Regions from separate parts of the Homo sapiens genome. Here region 1 is linked to region 2. Evidence: fine-mapped expression QTL. A gene starts in region 2. The other region holds a variant in brackets. All regions are shown on one strand. Distances are between the middles of the regions. Region 1 overlaps CELSR2 (cadherin EGF LAG seven-pass G-type receptor 2). Region 2 holds the start of SORT1 (sortilin 1).

The links. PIP is the estimated chance that this variant, and not a neighbour inherited with it, causes the effect.
Region 1: its variant is fine-mapped to the expression of SORT1 in sun-exposed skin (GTEx, PIP above 0.99).

Annotation. Positions count from the first base shown.
Region 1 is chr1:109,272,855-109,275,683 of GRCh38, forward strand. CELSR2 (cadherin EGF LAG seven-pass G-type receptor 2) reads left to right here. Exons shown (of 34, transcript NM_001408.3): 31 at 1-173; 32 at 312-482; 33 at 582-816; 34 at 1,168-2,829. The coding sequence ends at 1,195. Among named protein-coding and RNA genes, the nearest start is that of PSRC1, 8.9 kb to the right of the region's middle. RefSeq lists an enhancer at 1,398-2,829 and cis regulatory regions at 2,110-2,129, 2,114. The variant T/TC (reference allele first, on the strand shown) is at 1,387.
Region 2 is chr1:109,396,123-109,399,022 of GRCh38, forward strand. SORT1 (sortilin 1) reads right to left here and starts at 1,796. Exons shown (of 20, transcript NM_002959.7): 1 at 1,465-1,796. The coding sequence starts at 1,770. RefSeq lists silencers at 1,573-1,672, 1,683-1,752, 1,793-1,922 and an enhancer at 1,949-2,900.

The DNA of each region.
Region 1 (2,829 bases), 120 kb before region 2:
TGACCTGTCCTTAGAAGACGACCAGAGTGGCTCCTATGCCTCTACCCACTCATCAGACAGTGAGGAGGAAGAAGAGGAGGAGGAAGAGGAGGCCGCCTTCCCTGGAGAGCAGGGCTGGGATAGCCTGCTGGGGCCTGGAGCAGAGAGACTGCCCCTGCACAGTACTCCCAAGGGTGGGCCAGCACTGGGGCTGTGGCCTTTGGGGCCAGTGGGAGGACAGTGGGCCTGGGGTTCTTGGGAAGCAGGACTGGGGTGGTGGCCTCCTGGCTATCTGCCCTCTGTGGGCCTCATCTACTTCCTTTCCCCACCAGATGGGGGCCCAGGGCCTGGCAAGGCCCCCTGGCCAGGAGACTTTGGGACCACAGCAAAAGAGAGTAGTGGCAACGGGGCCCCTGAGGAGCGGCTGCGGGAGAATGGAGATGCCCTGTCTCGAGAGGGGTCCCTAGGCCCCCTTCCAGGCTCTTCTGCCCAGCCTCACAAAGGTGAGTGGGGCACCCCCAGCTGCCGAGCTCCCCTAGTCAGCAGCCTCATACCTCACATTCTCCTGTGGCCGCACCTCACAGCCCCGCCCCGGCCCACAGGCATCCTTAAGAAGAAGTGTCTGCCCACCATCAGCGAGAAGAGCAGCCTCCTGCGGCTCCCCCTGGAGCAATGCACAGGGTCTTCCCGGGGCTCCTCCGCTAGTGAGGGCAGCCGGGGAGGCCCCCCTCCCCGCCCACCGCCCCGGCAGAGCCTCCAGGAGCAGCTGAACGGGGTCATGCCCATCGCCATGAGCATCAAGGCAGGCACGGTGGATGAGGACTCGTCAGGCTCCGAGTGAGTGTGGCCGGGTGGGCGGGACGGGGTGCAGCCCCTCGGAGGCCTCACCTGGGCCCAGAGCTGCCTCCGGGCCTCCCCAGGTGACTCTGGATGGCATTTGGAGGACAAATGGGCAGAACTGGCCCAGCTCCCTTACTATGCCGTGCCCACAAACCATGGTGCCTTGCGGGGAGGGCCACCCCTCCTAGGCTCTACGCGGCGCAGCCCAGCCTAGGGCAGAGTGCGGGAGGATGGGGAGCTGGGGGTGCTTTCCTGTTTCCTTCGTCTGGTGAAAGCTTTCACTCTCTCCTCTGTTTCAACTAACCCTCTGTCTGCCTTTTCTGCCACTTTCCTTTCCTGCCTCTCCAGATTTCTCTTCTTTAACTTCCTGCATTAACCCTGGGCCGTGGTTCCTACGCCCGAGGCTCCCTTCCCTTCCCCAGCCGCACTCATGCCCTGCTCCTGTCTTGTGCTTTATCCTGCCCCGCTCCCCATCGCCTGCCCGCAGCAGCGACGAAACGTCCATCTGAGGAGCCTGGGCCTTGCCGGGAGGGGTACTCACCCCACCTAAGGCCATCTAGTGCCAAC[T/TC]CCCCCCCCACCATTCCCCTCACTGCACTTTGGACCCCTGGGGCCAACATCTCCAAGACAAAGTTTTTCAGAAAAGAGGAAAAAAAGAATTTAAAAAAGGATCTCCACTCTTCATGACTTCAGGGATTCATTTTTTTTATACGCTGGAAATTGACTCCCCTTTCCCTTCCCAAAGAGGATAGGACCTCCCAGGATGCTTCCCAGCCTCTCCTCAGTTTCCCATCTGCTGTGCCTCTGGGAGGAGAGGGACTCCTGGGGGGCCTGCCCCTCATACGCCATCACCAAAAGGAAAGGACAAAGCCACACGCAGCCAGGGCTTCACACCCTTCAGGCTGCACCCGGGCAGGCCTCAGAACGGTGAGGGGCCAGGGCAAAGGGTGTGCCTCGTCCTGCCCGCACTGCCTCTCCCAGGAACTGGAAAAGCCCTGTCCGGTGAGGGGGCAGAAGGACTCAGCGCCCCTGGACCCCCAAATGCTGCATGAACACATTTTCAGGGGAGCCTGTGCCCCCAGGCGGGGGTCGGGCAGCCCCAGCCCCTCTCCTTTTCCTGGACTCTGGCCGTGCGCGGCAGCCCAGGTGTTTGCTCAGTTGCTGACCCAAAAGTGCTTCATTTTTCGTGCCCGCCCCGCGCCCCGGGCAGGCCAGTCATGTGTTAAGTTGCGCTTCTTTGCTGTGATGTGGGTGGGGGAGGAAGAGTAAACACAGTGCTGGCTCGGCTGCCCTGAGGGTGCTCAATCAAGCACAGGTTTCAAGTCTGGGTTCTGGTGTCCACTCACCCACCCCACCCCCCAAAATCAGACAAATGCTACTTTGTCTAACCTGCTGTGGCCTCTGAGACATGTTCTATTTTTAACCCCTTCTTGGAATTGGCTCTCTTCTTCAAAGGACCAGGTCCTGTTCCTCTTTCTCCCCGACTCCACCCCAGCTCCCTGTGAAGAGAGAGTTAATATATTTGTTTTATTTATTTGCTTTTTGTGTTGGGATGGGTTCGTGTCCAGTCCCGGGGGTCTGATATGGCCATCACAGGCTGGGTGTTCCCAGCAGCCCTGGCTTGGGGGCTTGACGCCCTTCCCCTTGCCCCAGGCCATCATCTCCCCACCTCTCCTCCCCTCTCCTCAGTTTTGCCGACTGCTTTTCATCTGAGTCACCATTTACTCCAAGCATGTATTCCAGACTTGTCACTGACTTTCCTTCTGGAGCAGGTGGCTAGAAAAAGAGGCTGTGGGCAGGAAAGAAAGGCTCCTGTTTCTCATTTGTGAGGCCAGCCTCTGGCTTTTCTGCCGTGGATTCTCCCCCGTCTTCTCCCCTCAGCAATTCCTGCAAAGGGTTAAAAATTTAACTGGTTTTTACTACTGATGACTTGATTTAAAAAAAATACAAAGATGCTGGATGCTAACTTGGTACTAACCATCAGATTGTACAGTTTGGTTGTTGCTGTAAATA
Region 2 (2,900 bases):
AGTGGTGCACACCTGTAGTCCCAGCTACTCAGGAGGCTGAGGTAAGACTCTATCTCACAAAAAAAGAGAAAAAGAAAAACAGGAGTAAATCTAAATCCAGGAGTAGCAGCAGACCTAAAGTTAGGTCAACCAGCGAGAGAAGAATTTGAAATATGGAGCAAGAATGCTGTGACCAGCTAGCTCAAGGAAGGAAGTGGTCCAGTATAAATTAAGCATTAGTGTTGTAAAGCCTTTCTCAATCCCCCACTGTGAGAAGGAAGTCTATTCGATTTTTTTTTCTCATCAAGTAGGAAGACTTCCCAGTACTCATTCTACCCAACCTGTCTCACCCTCCAGCACTAGCTTGGCTACCTTTACACAGCTGCTGCTCGGGATACACTAAGCACAATTATTCCTGAATATTTGTGTCTTGTGTCCTCAGATCAGAGAATTCTATTACAGGTAACAAGTATGGTCCAGATAACCAGGCAGTCCAAAGGGAGACTGAGGCTTGGCTGACGCTGAAAAACGGTTACAGAAGGACAAGTGCTGGCACAGAGCCTTGGCCACCCATCTCTGCCCCCAAGTGCAATTCATTTTCTTTGAAAGAGGAAAACAGGCAAGGGAGAAAATATATAGAATTGAAAATACATTATGCAAATGTGGCTAGCAAGGATTAAATTGTTAATTTTAGAGAAATAGGAGAAAGATGCCCAAGTTGTGCTGAAGCAAGGAACCAGGACTTTCTTAATAATTAGTTTTGTCAGTCCAGTAGTGTGCAAAGGTTGAGCTGCTTGTCCCCAGGGACAGAAATCCCATAATTTTGAAAGTCTTTTGACCAAGAGCTGGCTCAAAGCAGAATATGTGCAATGCGTTTCTTAACTATTGAAAATCTTGTCACCACGGGATATAGACATGCTAGTCAGACTTCCGTACCATGACAGAAGGTCAAATCTGAAGCAGTAAAAGAGATCACATAAATATTGCCATCTCATTTCCAAGCTAGTCCCCTTAACTATTAAAACACGGTGACCAGATCGCTGCTTCGGGCCTCCTGAACTCCCGCCTCTCCCACCCGGAAAGTACTGACCCAGAGAGGACACACCTTTGCTTCTGCGCAGCCCAACTTCTGCAAGCGCTCAAGAGTTAATTACTCCTTCACCTTCCTGGGGCCTAACAGCGTTACTGGGTCCTGATTATTTATACAGACGAAAAACGATGTTCAAGAGATTTTGACAACTTAAAAAAAAAAAAAAGAATGCGGTGGAAGTCTAAGATTGCCTCCCCTATGACAAAACACAGCCCCGCCGGCCGCCCGGGCCCGACTCCGCCCGCCCGCCCGCCGCAGTTTCGGGGCTGCGGCCCGGGGGACGCGGGCGCGGCAGGGCTGGGGTCTCCTCCGGGAGTCGCGGGGCGCACGGGCCGGGAGGGGCACGCGGGCGGCACCTCGCACCCGAGCGGCTCCCGGGCCCGGCGCCCGCTCACCTGGTGCGTGTTGTTGGCCAGCTTGGCGACGAAGTCCCGGACCCGGCCGCACTCCTCGTCCTCGCCCGGCGCGCTGCGACGCCAACGGCCGCCGCGGGGAAACGCGCCCCCGGCTGCGGCCGCCCGCAGCCCCCAGCTCACCCCGATGGGGCCAGACCAGCGCGGCAGCGGCGCAGCGGGCGGCGGCGGCGCGTCCAGCCGGTCCTGGCTGAGGGTCGACGGCGGCAGCAGCTGCAGGAGGAGGAGGAGGCCGAGGCCATGGGGCCAGCGCGAGAGGCCGTCCGCAGCTCCCCAGGGCCGCTCCATCGCCGCCGAATGCCGCCGACGCCGACACCTGCCGCCCGGCGCGCCCGCCCACCCCCGCCGGCGCGCGCCACACCCCCGAGCCGAGCGCGGCGCTCCTTGGATACGCGCGGCCGGGCCTCTCCGCCCCATAGGCTGGCCGCCTGTCCCTCTTCCCCGGCCCACTCCTCATTGGCTCGCGTCGCCTCCGGCTTCGGGGGTCCTGGATTCGGATGCTAAGATGCGGGACTGATTGGCTGGAACGGGGCAGAGACTGCTGAGGTCAACCCCGCCTCGCCCGGCGTCTCCCGGGCCCGGCTTGTGGAGTTCACGTAGGAGCTTCTCATACCTTCCCGCCGAGCCCCGGGCTCCTGGCGTCGCGACCCCTTGCCGCACCTCTAGCGCCCTCAAGTTGGGGCTGGGTTACGTCCCTCCTGTTCCCCAGAGACACTCCTAAAATTCCTTCGGTGAGGCAGAGCCTGGAAAAACCTACCCAGGAAATCCCTGAGCTTGCTCAGCTGGAAAAGGGGGCTCCATCATGAACCGGGGCTTCGGGTTTTTATAAACCCCGCTCACTGGAGCGCCCATTGTCTGCTAAGCAGCTGCCTTGCTGCAAGAAGGTGAATGCGAACTGATGTGGGCCACATCCTACGGAGACAGACATCAGGACATCCGTGACTCCTGCAAGCCTGAAGAATAGTCTTTCCATACGTTTGGCCTCTCTCACCTTCCTCTTCTGAGGGGAGGTAGGCCAAAGGCGGAATTACTTACAGGTTTTCCAGGACTTCGAATGTAGCTTAGGCATTAGGGGCAGGTAAAAGAGGGGCAAGAGAATGATCCAATGCCTACTGTACACATGATCATTTCCTAGATGCACATTTATTTTACCAAAGTGCCTTAACTCTGCAGTGAGAGCTTCGGACAAGTTTGGTTCCAGTATGTGATGTCCTCTAAATTAGCACCCCGATCCACCTCTAATGAATAAAATAAAACCCCTACGCTGTTCCCTTTACCGCAGAAGCTGCACACACAACTTCTACAACACGTAGCACAGGTAAAACCAGTTCTGAATCCTTAAGCTTACTGACTCCATCCCTTCAGAAAGCTAGAAATTGTTCAGTAGAAAAGGTAGCAAATAGAAAGATACAAAATAT